3 separate regions of the Homo sapiens genome follow, and regions 2 and 3 are each linked to region 1. Evidence: fine-mapped expression QTL. A gene starts in region 1. Each other region holds a variant in brackets. All regions are shown on one strand. Distances are from middle to middle.

Evidence for each region.
Region 2: its variant is fine-mapped to the expression of KIAA1586 in hypothalamus (GTEx, PIP 0.93).
Region 3: its variant is fine-mapped to the expression of KIAA1586 in whole blood (INTERVAL, PIP 0.97).

Annotation. Positions count from the first base shown.
Region 1 is chr6:57,041,356-57,049,896 of GRCh38, forward strand. KIAA1586 reads left to right here and starts at 5,338. Exons shown (of 4, transcript NM_020931.4): 1 at 5,338-5,421; 2 at 5,958-6,041. The coding sequence starts at 5,401. RefSeq lists a silencer at 4,096-4,390 and enhancers at 5,020-5,109, 5,926-6,803.
Region 2 is chr6:57,806,288-57,814,828 of GRCh38, forward strand. LOC105375102 (a long non-coding RNA gene) reads right to left here. Exons shown (of 4, transcript XR_926901.3): 3 at 7,596-7,723; 4 at 4,854-5,130. Among named protein-coding and RNA genes, the nearest start is that of TRA-AGC24-1, 5.5 kb to the right of the region's middle. The variant AT/A (reference allele first, on the strand shown) is at 4,816.
Region 3 is chr6:57,145,242-57,153,782 of GRCh38, forward strand. ZNF451 (zinc finger protein 451) reads left to right here. Exons shown (of 15, transcript NM_001031623.3): 10 at 1,849-3,452; 11 at 5,478-5,621; 12 at 6,980-7,110. All of the region lies in intron 2 of ZNF451-AS1 (ZNF451 regulatory antisense RNA 1), which reads right to left. Among named protein-coding and RNA genes, the nearest start is that of ZNF451-AS1, 23 kb to the right of the region's middle. The variant G/C (reference allele first, on the strand shown) is at 4,430.

The sequences.
Region 1 (8,541 bases):
TCTGAATCTAGTCCCTGGGTCCTGGACATCATCTCTAGACCCACTGGAGCTCAGGGGAACTTGCCACCCTGAAGGGAAGGAAACAAGACTGGCTGGCTTCACTACTTGTTGATTGCAGAGCCCTGGAGACTTCAGCAAATATAGGTGGCAGCCAGATAGTGGTTACAGCAGGCCGTAGGTAAGACTCAGTACTATGCTCACTTCAGGTTTGACCCAGCCCAGTCCCAGTATTGGTGGCCACAGCGGTGCTTATGTCACCCCTCATCTAGCTTCAGGAAGCTCAGCACAGAGGGAGAGACTGTGTTTGTTTGGGAGAAAATAAGGGAAGAGAGCAAGAGTCTTTGTCTGGTAATCCAGATAATTTTTCCGGATCTTATTCAAGACCACCAAGGTGGTACCTCTACGAGTCTGCAAGAACTACAGTGTTAGTGGGCTTGGGGTGCCCTTAATGTAGATATGGCTGCAGCGACCAAAAACTTAGATTATATCACCCAAGTCCCTTCAAATACCTGGAAAGCCTTTTCAAGGTGGAGGTGTACAAACAAGCCCAAACTGTGAAGACAACAATAAATACCCAACTCTTTGATGCCAAGACAGTGATGAACGTACATAAGAATCAAGATCACTTTGGAAAATACAACCTCACTAAATAAACTAAATAGCAGGTGCCAATCCCAGAGAGACAGAGATATGTGACCTTTCAGACAGAGAATTCAAAATAGCTATTTTGAGAAAACTCAAAGAAATTCAAGCTAACACAGAGAAGGGATTCAGAATCCTATCAGGTAAATTTAACAAAGAAATTGAAATAATTAAATAGAATCCAGCAGAAATTCGGGAGTTGAAAAATGCAATTGACATACTGAAGAATTCATCAGAGTCTCTCAGTAGTAGAGTTGACCAAGCAGAAGAAGGAATAAGTGAACTTGGAGACGGTTACATGAAAATATACAGTCAGAGAGGACAAAAGAGAATAAAAAAGAATGAAGCACACCTACAAGACCCAGAAAATAGCCTCAAAAGTGCACACCTAAGAGGTATTGGCCTTAAAGAAAAGCTAGAGAGAGAGACAGGGGTAGAAAGTTTATCCAAAGGGTCCGGGCATGGTGGCTCAAGCCTGTATTCCCAGCACTTTGGGAGGCTGAGGCGGGTGGATCAGGTCAGGAGTTCAAGACCAGCCTGGCAAACATGGCAAAACCCTGTCTCAACTAAAAATACAAAAATTAGCCAGGCGTGGTGGCGGGTGCCTGTAGTCCCAGTTACTCAGGAGGCTGAGGCAGGAGAATCACTTGAACCTGGGAGGTGGAGGTTGCAGTGAGCCGAGATTGCACCATTGCACTCCAGCCTGGGTGACAGAGCGAGACTTTGTCTCAAAAAAAAAAAAAAAAAAAAAGAGAGAAAGTTTATCCAAAGGGATAATAACAGAGAACTTTCCAAAACTAGGGAAACATACTATTATCCAAGTACAAGAAGATTATATAACATCAAGCAGATTTAACCCAAAGAAGATTACCTCAAGGCACTTAAAATCAACTCTATGTTTAAGAGACATAGCTTAAAGTAATAAAAGCCATCTATGACAAACTCATAGCCAACATTATACTGAACAGGGAAAAGTTGAAAGCATTCCCCCCGAGAACTGGAATGAAACAAGGATGCCCACTTTCACCACTTCTGTTCAACATAGTACTGGAAGTCCTAGTCAGAGCAATCAGACAAGAGAAAGAAATAAAGGGCATCCAAACTGGTAAAGAGGAAGTCAAACTGTTGCTTTTGCTGATGATATGATCATATACCTAGAAAACCCTAAAGACCCATCCAAAAAGCTCCTGGAACTGGTAAATGAATTCAGTAAAGTTTCAGGATACAAAATTAATGTCCACAAATCAGTAGCTCTGCTATACACCAACAGCGACCAAGCTGAGAATCAAATCAAGAAATCAACCTCTTTTACAATACCTATAAAAATTAAATAAATAAATAAAATAAGGTACTTAAGAATACACCTAACCAAGGAGGTGAAGGACCTCTACAAGGAAAACTACGAAACACTGCTGAAAGAAATTATAGATGACACAAACAAATGGAAACACATCCCATGCTCATGGATAGAATCAATATTGTGAAAATGATCATACTGCCAAAAGCAATCTACAAACTCAATGCAATTCCCATCAAAATACTACCATCGTTTTTCACAGAACTAGGAAAAACAATCCTAAAATTCATAGGGAACCAAAGAAGAGCCCATATAGCCAAAGCAAGACTAAGCACAAACAAGAAATCTAGAGGCATCACATTACCCAACTTCAAACTATATACAAAGCCATAGTCATCAAAACAGCGTAGTGCTGGTATAAAAATAGGCACATAGACCAACAGAACAGAATAGAAACCCAGAAATAAAGCCAAATACTTGTAGCCAACTGATCTTCAGCAAAGCAAACAAAAACATAAAGTGGGGAAAGGACACCCTTTTCAACAAATGATGCTGGGATAATTGGTGACCCACATGTAGAAGAATTAAACTGGATCCTCATCTCTCACCTTATACAAAAATCAACTCAAGATGCATCGAAGACTTAAATCTAAGACCTGAAACCATAAAAATTGTACAAGATAACACCGGAAAAAACCTAGACATTGGCTTAGGCAAAGATTTCATGACCAAGAACCCAAAAGCAAATGCAACAGAAACAAAGATAGACAGGACTTAATTAAACTAAAAAGCTTCTGCACAGCAAAAGAAAAAATCAGCAGAGTTAACAGACAACCCACAGACTGGGAGAAAATCTTCACAATCTATACATCTGACAAAGGACTAATATCCAGAATCTACAAAGAACTCAAACAAATCAGCAAGAAAAAAAAAAACAACCCCATCAAAAAGTGGGCTTAGGACATGAATAGACAACTCTCAAAAGAAGATATGCAAATGGCCAACAAACATATGGAAAAAATGCTCAACACAGCTAATTATCAGGAAAATGTAAATCAAAACTACACTGCAAATCTACCTTACTCCTGCAAGAATGGCCATAATCAAAACATCAAAAAATAATAGACGTTGGCATGGATGTGGTGAAAAGAGAACACTTTTACACTGTTAGTGGAAATGTAAACTAGTACAACCATTATGGAAAACAGTGTGGATATTCCTTAAAGAACTAAAAGTAGATCTACCATTTGATCCAGCAATCTGACTACTAGGAAGAGGAATAACCACAGAAAAATAAGTCATTATACAAAAAAGATCCTTGCACATGCATATTTATAGGAGCATAATTCGTAATTGCAAAAATATAGAACCAGCCTAAATGCCCATCAATCAACAAGAGGATAAAGAAAATGGTGTATATACACATACATACACACACACACACACACACACACACAATGGAATAGTACTCAGCCATAAAAAGGAGCAAATACTGGTATTCACAGCAATCTGGATGGAACTGGAGACTATTATTCTAAGTGATGTAACTCAGGAATGGAAAACCAAATGTTGTATGTTCTCACTGATAAGTGGAAGCTAAGCTATGAGGACACAAAGGCATAAGAATGACACATAGGACTTCAGGGACTCGGGAAAGGGTGGGAGGGGGTGAGGGATTAAAGACATCGGGTACAGGATACACTGCTTGGGTTATGGGTGCACCAAAATCTCAGAAACCACCACTAAAGAACTTATGCATGTAACCAAACACCACCTGCTTCCTAAAAACCTATTGAAATAAAAAATACATTTTTATTTTTAAAAAATGTCCATACTACCCATACTACCCAAAACAATCTACAGATTGAATCCAATCCCCATCAAAATACCAATGACATTCTTCACAGAAGCAGAATAAACAATTCTAAAATTTATGTGGAACCACAAAAGACCGAGAATAATAGCAAAAGCTAACCTGAGCAAAAAGAACAAAACTGGAGGAATCACATTACATGACTTCAAATTCTACTACAGAGCTATAGTAACCAAAACAGCATGGTACTGGTATAAAAACAGACACACAGACAAATGGAACAGAATACAGTACCCAGAAATAAATCCACACACTTAGGGCATGGCTACACGGAGGAAGGGGTTTCTGAGCACAATACTCTGTGTGTGTTAACTTTGTAGTTTTGAAGTTAACAAGACCCTGGGCTCGCTATGCAGTCCGTATGTGATGTTGAACCCTTTACACACAGCACTAGACGGTTTTGAACCTATCAAAACACTGCTTCACTTAAATTTCACCAACTCCTTAAAATCCTAGTAAGTCTATGTTTTCCTTTGTTCCTATGTTCTCCTTTTCTCCCACTTTGTGGGTTGTCTGTTTACTCTGCTGATTATTTTTTTTGCTGTGCAGAAGCTTTTTAGTTTAATTAAGTTCAGTCTATTTATCTTTGTTTCTGTTGCATTTGCTTTTGGGTTCTTCATCGCGAAGTCTTTGCCTAAGCCAATGTCTAGAAGGTATTTTTCCGGTGTTATCTTGAGCAATTTTTATGACTTCGGGTCTTAGATTTAAGTCTTTGATGCATCTTGAGTTGATTTTTGTATAAGGTGAGAGATGAGGATCCAGTTTAATTCTTCTACATGTGGGTCACCAATTATCCCAGCACCATTTGTTGAAAAGGGTGTCCTTTCCCCACTTTATGTTTTTGTTTGCTTTGCTGAAGATCAGTTGGCTAATCAGATACCTCATAGCTCCTTTGTTGTATAATTTTGTGCATTGTAGATCAGGGTCAAAATGATAAAGGTGATTTTCTGGGACTACAGACTTGTCAATAACAGGTGGTCCTAGGCTGATAGAGGTAAACAAATAAAAGCTTTAAAAGAATATTCTCTGTTAAAATTTGCTTTCATAAATTTCATGTTTAAAATCATTTGTGAATAAATGTTAAAATAAAAAGGTGAGCCACGATTTTGGTAAGGCAATTTCTGAGCAAATCACACACAATTTTTTTTCATTCCCATTGATCTATTACATAGACGAATATTTGGTTGTGAAAAAGTGAGAGAAAGAACTCGGCTATTTTATTATAGTAGAGCAACACCGAAGGGAGACGACTTCGCTGTAGCTCAGAGTCTTTTTCCATTCTTCACCCACGCGCGGGGCAGTCGCGCGGCGCGGTCGCGCGGCGGGTAGGAACTACCATCCCAGCATCCTCTGCGGCGCGGGGAAGGAAGCCCGGGAATGAGAGAAAGAGGCTCCGGGGAGATAGCGGACCAGTGAGGGCTGCCCCTCTTTTGAAGCGGTTTTCGTCTCTTTCCGCCAGTGGCCTCCCAGCTCACGCAGGGGCGGGTCCCGGTAGCGCGAGGCGGTGCAGGGCGGGAAGGGGAGTGGTGGCGGCTGCGGCAGTAGGGACAGCAGGAGCAGTGGTGCTGTCAGCGCGGCCGTCGGAGACATGGGAGACCCGGGGTCGGAAGTGAGTAGTCGAGTGAGGGTCCTGGCGTTCTCAGAGGCGAACCGCGAAGGGTTTGTGTTTTCTGCGGTCTGAGGCCTGGTGCTCCGTCGCAGCCTCGGGGCGATACCTCTTCAGTGTCTTGGGCCGAGCCCAGCTCTGGGGCCTGGTGCGTGTCTGAGCGAGGAACCCGCAGCAACAATGGCCGCCCGGCCCCCCGCACGGGCCCTGGCGTTCGTTGTGGCCGCGGCTGGGCCAGTGGGAGCGACGTTTTAAGGCAGGATTGCCCTTCGGTGTTGAGCTTGCGTTCCTCCTGGAGTAGATAAGGGGAATTGTGAGAGGCTGGTAACTAACGCGTTTTCAGCGTTGGGTCCCTGCAGCTCCGCACACTCTGTGGCAAGAGCCAGAGCTCGAGTTCCGTTCCTAGTCGGGTTTCCGTGAAATTGTGCTCAGTTCGTTTTCCTCAAGAGCTCTCTGTCTTTAATTGTTCCTTTCGGAAACGCTCTCTTCCTACACGAATGTGGCTGAACAGATAAGCATGTTTTGGCTTGTTTTTATAGATAATAGAATCTGTCCCTCCAGCTGGCCCTGAGGCATCTGAGTCAACAACGGATGAAAATGAAGACGACATTCAGTTTGTCAGTGTAAGTAGCAATGATGATTGGGGTTTTCCCAGAGTAAAAGACTATGGTGGGCCATTATGTAATGTTACCTCACCTGGTCATTTAATGTTCATGAGTGTCTAATACATACTAGACACTGGAGCATGGCGCAGGATTGGGAAATTTACCAAAAGAGCTATCTGAGCCACCCCCGTAGCCATCACAAAGAGCACGTCCTAAAGAACGTGCTGTACACTTAATCTCGCCCCCTGCCTTTCATTTAAACTTAAGATAAAAACGCTGGTGTCTAAAACGCTGTTTTGAAATGGAGCAAGAGTAACTTCTAAAGGCGACACGGAGGAAGGAGCTGCTAATGATGAGCAAGGACGTAGAAAACAGGAAGGGTTGTGAGAGCCCAGAATCTTAGCGTTATGGTGCTTCTAACATGAAGGCAAATAGCTTGAAGATTTCTCTAACCTCTGAGATCATCATGTTACGGCATAGTACAGTTGATGCTCATAATGAAGAATCCTACATCACTGGGAACATGCTCTATTTTTCTGAGTTTGTTCCCTTTGAGACAGTAGTTTTCAAGCCTTAGTAAGTATAAACAGGCAGATTCCTGGGCCCCACTGCAGACCTACCGAATCAGAATTTCCAGGCGGGGGCCTAGGAATCTTCATTTTCAGACAAGTGCAGGGACATAAGGATTTCTGAGCACACTTTGGACAGAATGGGTTTCTAAAGCAGAAGGGAGTGTTTTATGATATATTTTGGGGTGATTTTCATCCATAATTGTTGGAGTTTTAGAAAGGCTTTGCGTAAAGTGGTATCTCAGCTCGCCAGGCAGAAAACAGTTCTGTCCCCAACTCGTCTTTTGGAATGCCGTAGTTAGTTGCAGTTTGGTATTCAGGCTGTAGAATTTTTCTTTAATGGAGTGTCTGTCTAATGTTTCTGTGTTTTTTAGTTTTTGTAGGTTTAGGGCGACTTTGTAAGTCACTTGTTTTTTAAATTAAAATTTCCTCCCTAAACATTGTTTTGTTAACATCGTTGTTTGTTTTTCGTGTTTTGTGTATAAGTTCTTTACCCTGTCACTTTCTGGACATATTTCCCAATTAATAGTGTGTGTATATTTTGTTCCTGACATTTGGAACCTTTCTAAATATTGATGATACCAAGGGAGATTGTATGCTGACTCTGCCTTCACTGTTGTTATGGAGTAAGCAACGTAACTTGAAATCAAAGAGCAATGGTTTCTGTTTTTGTAACGAGAAACATTTGGGAAGAGGAGTTCATGGGTCTTTAGGAAAAATAATTTTGGTTTCCTCTTAACTGGTATAAAAACAGGAATGATTGGGACAGATGATCTTGATGAGTTTTTTGTGCATCTGTATGTAGAAGTGACACACGTCTGATTGATGATCCATGTGCCATTGAGAAAGTATGTAGAAGTGACATACGTCTGATTCATGATCCATGTGCCGTTGAGAAACACAGATGGGATGTACAAAATTAAGTTTGGAAAAGTAAATAGGTATAGATTTGTGTAATATCCTGAGGAATAAATCATTATATTTTAAATTGTGAGTTAATATATAGGCTGTGTTTAGCTGAGGTTTAAAACTCTTACTTTAAATTTTATTTTAAATATAAAGATCCTTCTACATCTTTTCATACAATATTTTGTATATCCAGCGTGATAGAACCCTTTATATTTAACCCTGTTCAAAATAGAAGATCAAAGGTTTGACAGCTCTTATATGGAGAAGTGAATTACATGCTGTCAGTGTAATTGCAGTACCAGAAAGAATGTAGTAAAACATCCCTGTTGCATTTCAGTGGTGCCACATAAAAGACAATGATAACTTAATTCCACTTTGAAATACACTCAGAGACAACTTTCCTTTGTAACCCCATCCTATACTGGGCTCTACCAGGATATGCTTATTTCTCTGTGTTTTTTATAGTACCATCCAGTAAAGATGCAATGCTGCTGGGTATAGTTCTCTGCTTGTGGGTTCTTCAGATTAAAAGAAAAAAAAGTTTGTTACTTCTTGATATATTCTGGTTTGGATTCCTTAGTCTTTTCATATAAATGTTGATTATCTAGCCTTCATTCTGCGTTGTGGCACAGAATCCTCTTTGTGTTCTGTCATGTACCTAGCCTCCAAAATAAACAATATGCTGAAAGAAAGGAATGATAAAAGATTTGGGGATACAAAAAGAGTCCTTATCTTAATGTAAATTTTATTGAAATATAGTACCTATACAGGGAAGGTTACTTCCTCCTTGCCATCACTATTTTTGTACCACATTACCATTTGTCTAGATTGATTATCTTGTTTGTATTCTTCCCACATGCTCTCTTATGTGGTTAACCTTCTTGAAACAGCTCTAATAATGTTCCCATCTTGATGTTATTTATTGATTCCTTTGCCTACAGAATAAAATCTAGGATTTTGACTAGGGCATTTATGGCCTGGTCTATGATGAGGGTAGTGTATATGTAAAGAAAGGATCAAGAAGACTCAGAGTTTGATGT
Region 2 (8,541 bases), 760 kb after region 1:
CTTTATTATTCTCCCCACCACCCCTCCCTGGCTTTAACTCATCTTCCACCACAATTGAAGCACAGAAGTCTCAGAACAGTGGCTAACAAATGGTAGAATGTTAGGCTAAGAAAAGAGAAATGAAATGTTTTCCCTAGAAAACTATCCAAATAGTCATGACTCAACAGCCCCAGCAGGTAAAGGAAGAGATCTGATCTTTACGTCAAGTTTAAATTTTAGAGTGTTACATGGAGCTCAGCATCTTAACTTTGAGACTGAGACTGTATTGCCTGGGATGAGGCATAAAACTGTGTATGTCTTCATATGGAGGTAGGGAAAGAATGTATCCTACTGAATAAGATTAAAATGACACTGGGAGACCAAAACATATTTTTTGTATTATTAAATCCCAGAGATTGGCCACATTCATATTACAGAGTTTAGAGAGAACTAACTGATAAACTTATGTGGCTATCCCTTAATGAGCTTTGTTATTACTATGATTTTTCCCTGTCTGCTTATGTATTATTATGATATCTATATTATGATTTTGTTATGCCAAGTAATGACATCTCAGGGATCTGTGAGGCAGTACCTCATTTGGTATTCTAACCACATTTGACAAGTACAAAAATGTACACACCTTAGTCTATTTTGTGTTGCTAAAAGGAACACCTGAGACTGGGTAATTTGCATGACAATGAGTCATGCAATTCCGAGGGAAAAACTAGTATGCTACATTCCTCCATGCTACATTCTTTCAAATAAGAATGAAAGAATCAAGAATGGGCCTTGAAGAATGGAGATGAGGAGAAATAATGGATGTGTGGACGAGGCACTGGAGTGGCAATTCCTAGATAAGGAAAGGTATATGGTCTGTTTAATTAAGGGGCTTTAAAATACGTGTTAAAAAAAAAAAAAAAAAGCAAGTAGTGCTTTCCAGTAACAAAGTCTACTGCAAATATGAAGGTGAAAATGTAAACAACTTTGAGCCTGTCATGGTGGAATTTTGTCCCGCCCCACCTGTCATCAAATTCATGTCGAAACCCTAACTCCCAATAGGAGTTCTTATAAGAAAAGATGGAAATATGTGTAGAGAGAGAGACCGTGGGAGAATATAGCAAGAAGGTAAGTGACCATCTGCGAGCCAAGGAGAGAGGCCTCAGGAGAAACCAAAGCTAACAACCCTTCTAGCCTCCAGAACTGAGAAAATTTTCTGTTGGTTAAGCCACTCAGTCTGTGATATTTATTATGGCAGCCCTAGCAAACTAGTGCAGAGTGGGAGTTACAGTATCAAAATAAAATATTTAGGAAGATGCATTTATAAGAATCCGGAAGTTTGAGAGTACAGGAACCGGACCGGATAGGACAGTTTGTCCTGTCAGCTCCTGAGGTCAGGGATGGCTCAATTTCCTCTGAATCCTCAAAGCCTTCAGGTAGCACAGTGCCTGAAATGGAATGTGTCCTCAAGAATTATGTGGTGGGTCTGGGCACCGCACTTTGAGAACTAATGATTTAAGGTGTTTGTAGGGATGTGAGGGATAAAGGGCCAAGGATGCCTTGGAAATCTAGAACATAAATGCCGGGTACATGGCAGGTGGTGAATTACAGTTTGTTGAATGGACCAACGAATCTAAAATTCTATAGCTATTTGCTTAACAAATGAGTGTGGTAGTGTGGAGAGGAAAAGGGGAGATTACATGATCTAGAGGGAGAAAGAGGGCAGCACACTTTTTGGAAAACAAAGTCTGCTTTCAAGATCTGGTTTTGCCCCTTATCAGCTGTGGATTTAGTTCTGCTGAGCCTCAGTTTCATCAGTAAGATGGGGATAATGATGTATAGATTTATGGCAAATAAATAAATAAAGAAATTGGACTAAATGAAATTACGGGAATAAAATCTTTAATAGGGTATTTGCAACATAGAGGTGAAGAAAACATGAAGACTCATCATAAAATCAGTTGGTGATATTTTGAGGGGACTATCTCAGGTGACATAAGTGGAAATGCAAATTTAAATTAAGAGAGGTAAGTGTAAACTGCAGGCATGTTTGGGAGCTTTTCATTCATTCAACTAGCATTTAGTGAGAGCCCGCTATTCCAACTAACGGAACTGGACAGTAAATATTGCCTAATATATCTGAGGGGACGAAGATCCAGATCAATAGAAAATGAGATCAGGCATAATTGTTCAGTACACTATGGCTTCCGAGTGTGCGGTTCTTCCTATGGGCTAAAAAGGATCCTACGCGTGCCTATTGGAAATAATCTTGGAAAACTAGCGACCTTGGGCGAATAAAACTGAAGTACCAAAATAACCCGCCTGGGGAAAGAAATTAGGAAATTCCTGTGGAAGCTGGCGCGCCGTTGCACTTCGTCGTCTTCTTAGCGCAGTGAGCAGCGCGTCAGTCTCATAATCTGAAGGTCCTGATGTTCGAGCCTGAGAAAAGGCAGCTTTTGCAAGGAACGCTTACCTTCCCGGTACTTGTTATAGCTGTAACCCATATTCCCTTTACAGCTGGGGTATAATTCCTTCTTTTCTGAAATATCAAGCAAGTGGAATCGTGTCGGGCCCAGAGCTTCTGTGGGTGCTCGTTTGACACGCGCTCCCGGCTCCGCGCAGTGGCTGTTTCTGGATGAGTCTGGAGACTCCGCCTGCAGTCCTGTGCTGGCTCCACCTTGGCAGGGATGGAGCTCAGGAATGTTGAGTGGTCCCGAAAAACCAGGTGGAACACAAGACTTCTAGTCCGGAAAAATCCCCCACATGCCTCAAATAGCCAATAGCGGGGTAGGGGGCTGAGGTTAGCGGAATTTGTAACCCGCTCACTTGGGAGGCAGCGGCCTGCAGGGTCTGCGTCCGCATCCTCCGGCTTTGCTCCTTTCTTCCCTCTGGGTGGGCAACAGTCGCTTCCCAGTTGATCATCTGAGAGCTGTACGCCTGGGTGTAGATGTCGAATACATTGATCTTCTTATTTTTATCTGTTTTTATTTTTATGGTACACAGACGACAGGGAATCATTGGGCATCTTTGAAGTATAAATAAATCAGGTCTGTTTTTCCCCAAAAGGTTCCCATGGCAGGGGCTGGGTATACCTTGACCGACATCCAACAGACTCTATGTAGGCAATGAGGGAAAACCAAGGAGTGACGAGGGGCGGGAACTCCGAGCAGGTGCTCAAAGACGAAGAAAATCTGTGCTGGGCTGGGGTGGTCACTTTCTTCTCAGAGATGCAGAGTGCTACACGGCGAGTGGGAGGGTGGGCTCCCACTCCCTGTTACAGGAGCCGCTTGGAACTGGGGATTCAACCTGGGAAACAAGGAAAGCCTAGAGAAGCTAAGAAGAGAACCTAGAGAAGCTAAGAAGAGAAGCTAGAAGCATGAACGAGAGAATTTTGGGGAACAGATCCGGGCTTGGAGGGGAGACTGCGAAGCGCCAGTCAGCCTAAGGAAGGTTCTGATACCCAGTGGAATTTATAGAAAATGAATTCGGAAAGAGAGAAAGAAAGAGAGTGGTGGGCAGTCTGTCCTTAACGAGGCGTTATGTCCGCCTGCCAAGGATCCCATCGTCACTGGTCCTGAATCTATATTTCATCTGTAACGCCAGTCCTGAACAATAGTCTCAGAAATCCTTCAAACTCATGTGCCACACACAGAACCCGAGACAGTTTTTTCTCTTTTGTTATAGAGGCTCCTTGAGAGAGAAATGAATGTACAAAAATATCTCAGCAGAAAGTACTGAAAAGCCATCCCACCCCATCCATTCTCAGAGACTAAAATCAAGCTAGTCAGAGGAAGGGATTTACAAAGCAGGACTGCACTGTGGGACAATCCCTGCATTTTGGCTTTCCCTCACACCCTCTTCAAATTGAGCCCAAGCCCCACATTCTGAGGATGATACTCAGGACGTGAGGGGGCTCTGAAAAAGGGCTGATCCCTCCGCAAACTCAGGGTGATGCGCACAGCCTGGAGGAAATGAGAAAATTATCACAAGTCTTTCAGATTCACAAATGCCATATTCCCTTTGTTTTAAGGCCACGAAGATCAAGTAAGGACCCAAATAACTACCAAACATCTCAGAGAACGCTTTGGGCAAGAGTGCGGAGACAATCAATTGCCTTGTTCCCATTACAGTTTGCAGTTATTAATTTCATGGAAGAGAGCACGTCACACCTGGGGCAAGACACAGTAGGAACTGCCAGATTAAGTAGCACAGATATCCCGGAATGTTCTGCGGCTCTTGTATTTTAAGGAAGTTATGATTACTGACTGACTGTTGATGAGTCAACAGTTGATGAGGAGGAGGTTTTGGGGCTGGCCATTCCAGGCTCCACGTTCACACCACGGCACCACCATTCCTAGGGTGTCTAGACATGTATACTTGCAAAAATCATGTATATAGAGAAAATGATGTATTTATATGTGAGAGCACTTTTAAGTTTAAAACTTTCAATAAAGACTTTTTTTTTTTTTTTTTGAGAGTGCAGTGGTGCGATGTCGGTTCACTGTAACCTCCACCTTCCAGGTTCAAGCGATTCTTCTGCCTCAGCCTCCCGAGTAGCTGGGATTACAGGCGTGCACTACCACGCCCAGCTAATTTTGTATTTTTAGTAGAGATGAGGTATCGCCATGTTGGCCAGGCTGGTCTCAAACTCCTGGCCTCCAGTGATTTTCCCCCGCCCCCCGGCTCGGCCTCCCACCGAGCCTGGCCTAATAAACACTTTTTTAAATTTTATCATTTTAATTAAATATTTCAGACTTTAGATAGGAAAGGGAATGAGATAATTTTTGTTCGTTTTTCCAGGTTGCTGAACAAAATAATTACCAGAAAGAAATCAAC[AT/A]TTAGCTTTAATTTTTGATGCTACAAGACCCCTCTGGAGACAGTGTTCACGCAGTATCTGGAGAGTGTTGTTTAGGCTCCTGCTTCCTCACGCAGTCCCCTCCAACAATACTGTTGGTCCATTGTGCTTCCCACTGTCCTTAGTCCATCTCATCCATGAATAGGCCATCAGCTCCCCCAGACCAGCAGCGGTGGGCTTTCCTTTGAAATCTGGAGGGTCTGGAGGGCTGCACAAACTTCCCTCGACTTCGTTATCTCAGAGCATTGTGATGGAAAAGAAACATCCCATGCAAGTGGACAGCACTAGGTTGTGAACTGGAAGGAAGGTTGGAAAGGAGAGATACCCATTACACATTTCACTTTCTTGAACTCAGCAGCAGAGATAAGGATGAAATCAATAGCTTGAGAGAACTAGGACATTTTAGGGCCGTGTTTTGCATGTGTGTATGTACTTGTTGTTAATAAATTGGTAATAGATCATAAATATGATCTAATATTAACTTTTTTTTCTGATTGTCACCCATACAAAAAAAATTTCTCTTAATGGCTGATTATAAATAATAAAGTAAAATCTACAGATTTTTATGTTTTTTAAGACTCTTTTCATCCATAAAAGGTCCCTGGTCTTTCTTTTATGGATATTATTTTTTTAAATTGATAGACTTTTTTTTTAAATTGATAGACATTATTTTTTAGAGAAGTTCTGGGTTTAAAGAAAAATTGATCAGAATAGATAGAGTTTCCATAAACTCCATCATTCTCCCTCTCTTACAATTTTCCCTATTATTAACATCTTGCATCAGTATGGTACACTTGTTACAACTGGTAAACCAGTAATTAGTAATACATTATTGTTAACTGAAGTCCACAGTTTACATTATAGTTTGCTCTTTGTGTTATACATCCTGGGTTTTTTTTTTTTAACAAATATATAATGACATATATTTATCATTATAGTATCATAAAGAGTTAATGCCAGTTAATTGTTGAAGGAACTGGGCCTTTTATCCTTAGAAACACCTCTATGTTGTATTTATTTCATTGTATCTATTTCCTGCCCCTTGACATGTTTTTTAATCTACTCTATTTCTTGTAAACTGGTAGTTACAAGTAGAGGCTCACTTAGATTCAGCTTCAAATCTTTTAACAAGACAATTTGATAGGTGGGCTTGTGCACTTTCCATTGCTTCGCTTTATGAGGTACATAATGTCTGGTTCTCCAACTTTTAGTCACCAATATTAGCACTAATGTGTGGTTCAGCTGCCGTTCATAAATACATGTATATATAACTCGTATACTTATGTGAATGTATATATTTATGTGTTGATAAATAAAATGATACACAAAAATTAGAAAATAACATTGAAAGACTGAACATAAAAGTAAACAAGAAGAGATTAATTCTCGAATGCACAGTTTAAAAAGAATCAAAAGTATATCTTCAAGCTCCTTAGAATATAATGAAAATGGGGACTTATAATGACATATTTCTAAGGATTCTGTAGAAACTGCTTTCTCATTTTAAATTACACCTTGAATACCCAAGTTACAAAACATTAGAAGAAATCAGTGCATTAAATATAAGAAGTAAGAAGAAGAAGAAGAAGAAGAAGAAGAAGAAGAAGAAGAAGAAGAAGCCGCCCGAAAAAAAAAAAAGAAAAAGAAAAAAAAAGAAAATAGAATGGTGAAGGAAACACAGGAATTAACTAGAAAATTGCAAAATCTGATTGGTCATTTGAAAAAGAAGTGTAAAATGGTCAGCCAAATGTAAAATAATAATAATAATGATAAGGGGATATGGAGAAAGCACAAAGAAAAACCAAAAACATTAGTGAATGCTATTATTAAGATTTTAGAAATGTGGCAGGATAATGTTTTTAAGTATTGCTCTGTCTTTGATCTCCCTGTTTCCTTATCTGTTCAAGGCAGTAACCGTATTTTACAGAACTTTAACTCTACACATGGGGATGAAGCGAGTTGAACACAGTGTACATAGACAGCGTTTCGGTACTCAGGAAGCTCCCACTCTAGGGGAGAGAAAAACAAACCAGTATCTTAAAGACATACTTTCTGGAGGAGACGATATTTGTGAAGATGTAGTAGGAACTGAGAGATCGTGTGGGCATCACTTTTAGCTGTACTTGTCTAAAGACGGGAAATTTGCATTAAGACCTGAGTAGCTAGAAGTGCCAAACCTGTGGCAGGAGTGGAAAAGATGGGAGGATGGAAGCAGGGGCAACAAGACTCTTACATGGGGAGCAGTAAAACACGTGCTTGGGGGAGGCGGCAGTTTCCTCTGATCTTCTCCCAGATAAGAGGCACAGATGTCGTCAACAGGAGAAACAACGGGGAATACAAACTAAGAGACATAAACCAGATAAGAAACTGGAGAATGCGGGCGTCGATCCCGCTACCTCTCGCATGCTAAGCGAGCGCTCTACCGCCTGAGCTAATTCCTCACTGAGGAGGCCCGCCACCCCACCCATTTTCCTGGTTATCAGGAGCCTGCCGGTACTTTGGGCCGCCAAATCCCTGGCAGGACAAGATTGAGGGCGGAGCTTCTCAGATACTGCCTTGGGCAAACTTCTACGAGCCTGAGAGTGTGAAGAATACGGATTTCCAAAATAGGTCATGAGGGAGACCTCTCTCCTCACTTCCCAATTTCGCCTTCTTCATCTCTCGGAATTAGAGAGCACGTTCCAGTTGGAGAAGCACCACCTGGAACTGCCTGGCTTGCGGGCACAGCTATTCCAGCCCGCTCTAGAGTTGTGATCCTCACCTGCTCCCTGCAGGCAAGGCCACCCGGAAGTAGCGGGGCAGCTTCTCCCAGCCCCAGAACTTCACGCCATACGCGCCTCATCTTCAATAGCACTTTCCTCCTGTAGGACTCAGAAAGTGATGGAGAACCTTGGAGGAGTTGAGAAAGAGAAAGCTTGTGAATTTTCATCTCAATCTGTGGATTCATTCCTGAAGCACTTCTTCAGCACCAGGCACAGTGGATGAGGCCAGTGATCCACACAGAAAGTGCCACAACAATAGCAAGTAATAGTACTGTGCAATTGCCGTCTAGGCCCTATTTTAGATGCTGTACACATATTAATAGTAATGCAGGTAAAATGCCTAGAAATAGTTTATAATCTTCATTTTTTATATGAAAAATTATGGAAAATTGTCACCACAGAGCTCAGGGATCTCTCAGCCAAAAGGAAAAACAGATGCAGGTTATACCGTGTCTGCTGTGTAGGTGCTTCTCCTGCCATTTCCCTTCCCTGTCACCTTCCTCCCCCCTTCTCTTGCTCCATTGGGCACCACACTTGTCCTTCTTATGCCTGTCTAGTTCTTCAATTCCCAGGCCCACAGAAGAAGGCTTCCCCTGTAGCCCAGGGGAGGCTACATTAGCTCCACTGCCTTGGAGTTGTAGTGGATTCCAAATCTGCTTTCCACCTGTGAAGAATTCTCATTTAAGACAGGAAAATAGTTATTTTACTCTGAGTATAACTAGCGTCAAGTAGGATTTTTGCCTGATGAAAATTTGCTGAATGGAGAAAGGCTATACAGATAATTTAGAAGCCTCAAAGGAGAGAGTGGCTTCAGATCAGTAAAGACTGAAGAAAGGATTAGAAGCTAGGGTCTAACAAACCCATAGAAATGTTTTTGCCTGAAAAGGAAATGTGGTTGGGGAAGAGTGGAGGGGCACTACTTTCAGAGTGATTAGTGGGTGGAGG
Region 3 (8,541 bases), 100 kb after region 1:
TTCAGTGCAAAAGCAACTAGGGGCATGACATTTGTCTGACATAAAATTAATCAGTTCTTTATTTTTATTTCTTATAGATTCAGGGGGTACGAGTGCAGTTTTGTTACATGGGTATATTGTGAAGCTCAGATATCTGGGCTTTTAATGTCACTATCATCCAAATAGTGAACATTGTACCCAATAGGTTATTTTCCAACCCTCACCCATTTCCCAACCTCCCACCTTTTGGAGTTTTCAATATCTGTTTATTATTCCACTCTATATGTCCACGTGTACCCATTGTTTAACTCCCACTTAGAAATGAAAATTTGCAGTATTTGACATTCTGAGTTATTTCACTTAGGATAATGGCCTCCAGTTCCATACATGTTGCTTCAAAAGGCATGATTTCATTCTTTTTTATGACTCAGTAGTATTCCATGGTATATATACCATATTTTCTTTATTCAATAATCCATTGATGGACACTTAGGTTGATTCCATTCATTATCGCTATTGTCAATAGTGCTGCGGTAAATGTACAAGTGTAGGTGTCTTTTTGATATAATGCTTACTTTTTCTTAAGGTAGATACCAGTAGTGGGACTGCTGGATCAAAGGGCGGTTCTATTTTTAGTTTTTTAAGAAAGCTCCATATTGTTTTCCATAGAGGTTGTACTAATTTACATTTCCATCAACAGTGTATAAGTGTTCCCTTTTCTCTGTATCCTTGCCAACATCAGTTGTTTTTTGACTTTTTAATAACAGCCATTTTGACTGGTGTAAGATGGTATCGCATTGTTTTAATTTGAAGTTCTCTGATGATTAGTAATGTTGAGTATTTATGGGCCAGTTGTATGTCTTCTTTTGAAAAATGTCTGTTCATGTCCTTTGCCCACTTCTTAATGGGATTATTTGTGGATTTTTTTCTTGTTAAGTTCCTAGTAGATTCTGAATATTAGTCCTTTGTCAGATGCATAGTTTGCAGATATTTTCTCCCATTCTGTAAGTTGTCTGTTTATTCTCTTGATTATTTCTTTTGCTATGCTTAAGCTTTTAAGTCCCATTTGTCTATTTTAGGGCTTTGTTGCATTTGCTTTTGAGGACTTAGTCATAAATTTTTTGCCTAGGCCATTGTCCGGAAGGGGTTTTCCTAGGTTTTCTTCTAGAATTTTTATAGTTTCAGGTCTTAGCCTTTAATCCATCTTGAGTTATTTTTTGTATATGATGAAAGATATGGGTTCAGTTTTATTCTTCTGCATATGGCTGTCAAGTTTTATCAGCACCATTTATTAAATAGGGTGTCCTTTCCCCAGTGTCTATTTTTGTCAATTTCATCAAAGATCAGTAGTTTGTAGGTATGTGGCTTTATTGCTGGGTTCTCTATTCTGTTCCATTGATCTGTGTGTCTGTTTTTATACCAGTACATGTTGTTTTGGTTACCATAGCCTTATAGTATCAACATTAATCAGTTATTAAAGAATAGGAACTGGGTTGTCTAGAATCTTAACCATAGTGTTCTTACATACAGTTTAATTACCATGGAGAGTCTAATAATTTGCCTGTTCAATAAGGTCCTCTGTCAGTGCTTTTGATACAGATTTTAGTTTTCTAAAATTTGCCTGAATTTAAAAAATTTTGAATCTAGTTTTAGCCTTTTGTATTTTAACTAGAAATAGATAAAGTGCAGATAATACTCAAGTATTTTGAGATGATAGAACATCATTATGTCATTTGCATCTTTATTGAAAAGTATCTTTTAGTGCTTATTTATACGTTGGTTATTTTATAATTCCTGCAATAAAATGCAGCAATGGTATATTTAGAAAATACTTCTGAAAGACTTTCTATTTCTTTTTATCTAATTTAGAGTTCATTGTCGAAATGCTGGACCTGTAGCTGTAGCTGAGAAGAGCATTACCCAGGTTGCAGAGAAATTCATATTAAGAGGTTATTGTCCAGATTGCAATCAAGTCTTTGTGGATGAAACCAGCACCCAAAATCATAAGCAGAATTCAGGACACAAAGTCCGAGTCATTAACTCAGTGGAAGAATCAGTCTTACTCTATTGCCACAGCAGCGAAGGGAACAAGGATCCTTCTTCTGACTTGCATTTATTGTTGGATCAATCAAAATTTTCATCACTTAAAAGAACCATGTCTATTAAAGAATCTAGCTCACTGGAGTGCATTGCCATTCCAAAAAAGAAGATGAATTTAAAAGATAAAAGCCATGAAGGTGTTGCTTGTGTCCAGAAAGAAAAATCAGTAGTTAAAACCTGGTTCTGTGAATGCAATCAGCGATTCCCAAGTGAAGATGCAGTAGAAAAGCATGTTTTCTCAGCAAACACAATGGGTTATAAATGTGTGGTCTGTGGAAAGGTATGTGATGATTCAGGGGTCATTCGTTTACACATGAGCCGGATTCACGGAGGGGCACATTTAAATAACTTTCTTTTCTGGTGTCGGACATGCAAAAAGGAGTTAACAAGGAAAGATACTATCATGGCACATGTGACTGAATTTCATAATGGACACAGATATTTTTATGAGATGGATGAGGTAGAAGGTGAAACTTTGCCATCATCCTCTACAACATTGGATAATTTGACTGCTAACAAGCCTTCATCAGCTATTACTGTTATTGATCATTCCCCGGCAAATAGTTCTCCGAGGGGTAAATGGCAATGCCGGATTTGTGAAGATATGTTTGATTCCCAGGAATATGTAAAACAGCACTGCATGTCTTTGGCAAGCCACAAGTTTCATAGATACAGCTGTGCTCACTGCAGAAAGCCTTTTCATAAGATAGAAACATTGTACCGACATTGCCAAGATGAGCATGACAATGAGATAAAGATTAAATACTTCTGTGGGCTTTGTGATCTTATCTTTAATGTGGAAGAAGCATTTCTGAGTCATTATGAGGAGCACCACAGCATAGATTATGTATTTGTGTCAGAAAAAACTGAAACTTCAATTAAAACCGAAGATGATTTTCCAGTAATAGAGACCAGTAACCAGTTAACTTGTGGTTGCCGTGAGAGTTACATCTGTAAAGTCAACAGAAAAGAAGATTATAGCAGATGTCTCCAAATCATGCTGGATAAAGGAAAACTGTGGTTTCGCTGCAGTTTATGTTCGGCAACAGCACAGAATTTAACCGACATGAACACTCATATCCATCAAGTGCACAAAGAAAAGAGTGATGAGGAGGAGCAGCAGTATGTAATCAAGTGTGGCACCTGCACCAAAGCATTTCATGATCCTGAGAGTGCACAGCAGCATTTCCATAGAAAACATTGCTTCTTACAGAAACCCAGTGTGGCTCATTTTGGATCTGAAAAATCAAACCTGTACAAGTTTACTGCTAGTGCCTCACATACAGAGAGAAAACTGAAACAGGCAATAAACTATTCAAAAAGTTTAGACATGGAGAAAGGAGTTGAGAATGACCTAAGCTATCAGAATATAGGTATGGCTTTATAGCTCTATGCAAATTTCATATACTGATATTGAAACTTACAATGTACCCACCTCGATTCAATTTTGAAGCAAGAAACAGGGTAACTTCTTGATGGTATGTTAATTATTATGGTATATACATTTTAGGGGTTTGTATTCCTACTACTACATTTATCCACTTTCTAAACTTACGAGGACAGAGTATATGTTGGCTTTAAATAATATATATTTTAGATATCATTTTATTTTACAAAAGGTGTGGAGATTTTGAAGATGAAGGAAGTTGATAGTTTTTCTGAAAGTTAGATTTCAAAGTTATCCTAGTATTAATATCATTTAGATTTTTCTTGTAATATTTGGGTTAACTAAAAAGATAAATCACGTGAATTCTTTTTGTTTCTATTTGGCCATATTCTTTAGTGTGAGACATTTTAAAGGTCATTTCAGCATTTGTATATTTTTGTTATGATTAACTTGGAAGAAAAGCTTTAACATACAATTAAAATAGCAATTAGAAGTAGAGTTAAAGTGGTAGCAGGAAACCAGGGGGAAAATTGAAATATGAATTCCTTGTTTGTACTTACTCCAGACTTTCTTTCTTCCATATGATAGGATTAAGTAAGTCTAGGCAGGTGTTATGTTTTTATTTTGTTTAGAAGTATAATTTGTTTTGTTTAGAAGTATAATTTGTTTTTGTTTAGAGTATAATTTTAAGTGTATCTTCTTTTATTTGTAAAATTTTTTTGAGATGGGATTTTACTATGTTGCCCAGGCTGGTTTTGAACTCCTGGCCTTAAGCAATCCTCCTGTTTTAGCCTCCCCAAGTGTTGGGATTACAGGTGTGAGCCACCACACCTGACTTAAGTCTATATTCTTTTAAATAAATACTAATTCTTGGTGAGTTATACAATGTAGCATATTTGGGTACAGTGAGAATATGTGAAAATTTTGGCCAGTAATGTATTTTTATGAACTATTGAATTTTTA[G/C]AGTCTTGCTCTATACCATATGTAGATTTCAACATCACCTTTAGTCATGGCATGTTTTCAGTGGTAAAGAATTAAATCATGAGCTACCTAGTCAACTCTAAACAGTGAAACACTGGTTACACCATTTTATGTTAGGCCTTTCTTTTGCGCTTCTGTTTACTTTTTTTTTGGAATTTGTGTTAGTCTGTGTTTGATAGAAAATGCAATACCTAAATCTAGAATTACCGAGAAGTTAGAGAAAAGACGTAAGGTGGCTTGGAAATGGAAGGGAATGGCAGTAGTATATTTGAAGGAACTATTAGAATAGAAACTATTCATTTTTTAAATAATATAACATTTTAAAGTTTGCATTGTTACCACAGGAAACTTTAAGGCCTTGTCAAAGTGGAAAAGTATGAAACAAGATAAAGGGGAGGGAGAATGAGAGTTGGGGCATGGGGGAAGGTGAAAGAAGAATCTGAGAGAACCAAGAAGATGTGTTTATAGGGGGAGGTGTCTCTGTACCACTGGCACATATTTCTAGCACTGCTTTATGGCAGCAGGATTCTAGGTTATCTTATTTCTGCTCTCTAGGGTGTTTAATCCTAGAACTAGAGGGCTACTAATAAATCAGTCCAGACTGGGAAAAGAACCAAATTCTGGTGGTGAAAATGTTCTTAATAGGTAACCTTGGAATTTTATATGGGTGGTATTAGTTTTTGCTTATTTAACCTTAAAACTTGGTTTTCTAGTTCTTCTAGTACATTAATTTTTTAAAAAAATTCCTTGTATAAGTGACTTTTTAACAAGCTTTAGAGTTGTTGGAAGAAAATGTTTGCAAGAAGGATATATAACCAAAATTGGTGAAATGTTCAGATTATTTTTATCTGATTTAAGTGTAAATGGTGTCATGTACAGATTTGGATTTCACAAAAAGGTTTAGATAGAAATGAGTAACATTCAAGGTTAGTATTTTTGCATATTAGGCTTCTAATACTTTTTGGACTTGAAATCAGAATGATTTTAGCAAATTCTTACTGAACTCATGTTGATATTTCTCTCTTCTCAGAGGAAGAAATTGTTGAGCTTCCAGATTTGGATTACCTGCGAACCATGACTCATATAGTCTTTGTAGATTTTGATAACTGGTCAAACTTTTTTGGTCATCTACCAGGGCATCTAAACCAAGGAACATTTATTTGGGGCTTTCAAGGTACGGTTAATAAGAAAAACAAAAGAAAACTTTTTCCCACCTCTTAGAATATAGTTCAGTTTAAAAGGCTCCTCTTAAACCTTCCTGGATAGAACATAGGAACATAATTGGAATATTGTTCTTTTGTATTATAGTTACTCTGCTAGAATCGTTTTCTTTACATGCCTCTGTGGTAAATGTTAGCTCTATCTGGTGACTCAAAGTTTATGGATCTTTTGGCCGGGCGCGGTGGCTCACGTCTGTAATCCCAGAACTTTGGAAGGCTGAGGCGGACGGATCACGAGGTCAGAAGATCGAGACCATCCTGGCTAACATGGTGAAACCCCGTCTCTACTAAAAAGAAAAAAAAAATACAAAAAATTAGCTGGGCGTGGTGGCGGGCCCCTGTAGTCCCAGCTCCTTGGGAGGCTGAGGCAGGAGAATGGTGTGAACCCAGGAGGCGAAGCTTGCAGTGAGCTGAGATCGCACCACTGCTCTCCAGCCTGGGCAACAGAGTGAGACTCTGTCTTAAAAAAAAAAAAAAAAAAAAAAAAAAGTTTATGGATCTTTTGATACAGATTGAAAAAGCCTTTATTCAACACCTAAAATGTGTCAGGTGCTTTGGCTTTGTACTAACATGGTTACTGATTATTATGGTTTTATCCCTTTTAAAATACAAAGAAGCAGATGTTTTGTTTTTGTTTTTGTTTTTTTTCCCTCAAAGTTTTAAAACTAATAAATAGCAGAATTATTTGGCCTCTCAGCTATAGGACTAATGTTATTTTCAACATGCCATAACTGCCTCTTCGGTTCATCCTTGCTGTTCTTAAGTGTTCAGCTTCATCTAAACCTCTTTACAAATTGTTGACCAAACTTGGGGGAGAGGCTTCTTTGGTTTACAGAGAATCTGCTATTGTTTGTGTTTGATAGGAAATAGCATGTAAAGAGAAAGATTGGGATTAAAGATAGAAACATACTGACCTGGATAAGTTAGCCAGTATAATTGCTTTAGTAAGTTGAGCTTTGGTGATTGCCCATCATTTCTGCATTGAACGGTGGTGACATCTGTAAAAACCACTTATGCTTACACTTATAGAATAATGCCATTCAAAGAATTTTTACACACATTGCTTTTGATTTTGCCTAATATCCATGTGAGTTTTAAGATGAGTTGACAGATTCAGGGAAGTTGGTCCACTTTCTCAAGACTTTAAAGCAACAAGATGTTGATGCTTATGCTAGGATGGAGTTCTTCCACATTCTGATCTAGTACTTTGCCTCTAGAAAAATTTTTTTCTAGTATGTGTTTTTTCTTGATAAAATTTTTGGCCTTTCCTCTCCTGTTTGATTATCATTTTTGCCTTTTCTAAAATTAATAGGAGGAAACACCAATTGGAAGCCTCCGCTCAACTGTAAGATTTATAACTACCTGAACAGGATTGGATGCTTCTTCCTTCATCCTCGCTGTAGTAAAAGAAAAGATGCTGCTGATTTTGCCATATGTATGCATGTGAGTCATTGTTTTATTCAAAATCTAATGTGAATCTCAGACCCACTTGCATTTTTTTCCCCACTTGAATTGTAATGAGACTTATAGATCATTCTTCAGTACTTCAGGTTCTACCTATGACTATTATGAAGGCAGGACCCCATAGCATATTTTTATTGCTTTATCCTCAACTTCTAGCAAACCTTCAGCTATCCATAGTAGACCCTCAACTATTTGTGGGATAAATGATCAAGAGCTGATACTGTTTTTTGGGTTTGTTTTTGAGACAGTCTCGCTCTGTCACCCAGGCTGGAGTGCAGTGGCGCAGTCTCGGCTCACTGCAACCTCAGCCCCCTGGGCTGAAATGGTTCTTGTGCCTCAGCCTCCCAAGTAGCTGGGACTACAGGAGCATACCACCATGCCCAGCTAATACTTGTATTTTTAGTAGAGACGGGGTTTCTCCATGTTAGCCAGGCTGGTCTCAAACTCCTGGCCTCAAGTGATCTGCCCGCCTAGGCCTCCCAAAGTGCTGGGATTACAGGTGTGAGCCACTGCGCCCTGCTGATGATACTGTATTTGATATATATTAAGACACTTTCATATTTTAATATCTCTAAAATTAAGAGGTACCTTAACAATCACTGTTGGCCTAGACAGAATTTGCATTTGCTTCTGTCTCTGCTGGGTACCTAGAGAAACTGCCAAACTGAGACCCACTTTAAATTTTCTGCTTGGGGACTTACATGTCACACTGATAATGTGAATTTACTCTGCAAACTTGTTGACTGCAGCTTATGGTTTAAACAACAAAAGATTTCTTTTTCAGTCTATCTAATGCCAAGATTGAATCATGCAAATTGCCTTGCTTACCTTTTCTCTATGGCAGATTTATTTCTTATTTACCCTTATATTGAGCGTATAGCCCTTTGGCATTTCAACCTTATGTGAGGTCTGTTGGACTTCCATTTTGGCTTTTTCTTTTCATGGCACATTAAATAGCTTATATAATTTAATGGCATCTTATATTTGATTAAATGTGGGGTATTTCATTTATGAACGAGTTCTTTCTTTCTCTCTTTTTTTTTTTTTCCTTTTTGAGACGGAGTGTCACTCTGTCGCCCAGGCTGGAGTGCAGTGGCGCGATCTTGGCTGCAACTTCTGCCTCCCGAGTTCAAGTGATTCTCCAGCCTCAGCCTGGAGAATCCCGAGTAGTTGGGATTACAAGCGCATGCCACCACACCCAGCTAATTTTTGCATTTTTTAATAGAGACCGCGTTTCACCATGTTGGCCGGGCTGGTCTCGAACTCCTGACCTCAAGCGATCCACCTGCTTTAGCCTCCCAAAGTGTTGGGATTACAGGCGTGAGCCACTGCACCCAGCTGAAGGAGATCTTTATGTCATACTTTGGTAGGGACTAGGGAACAAGCTTAATATACCTTCCTAGGCATGTG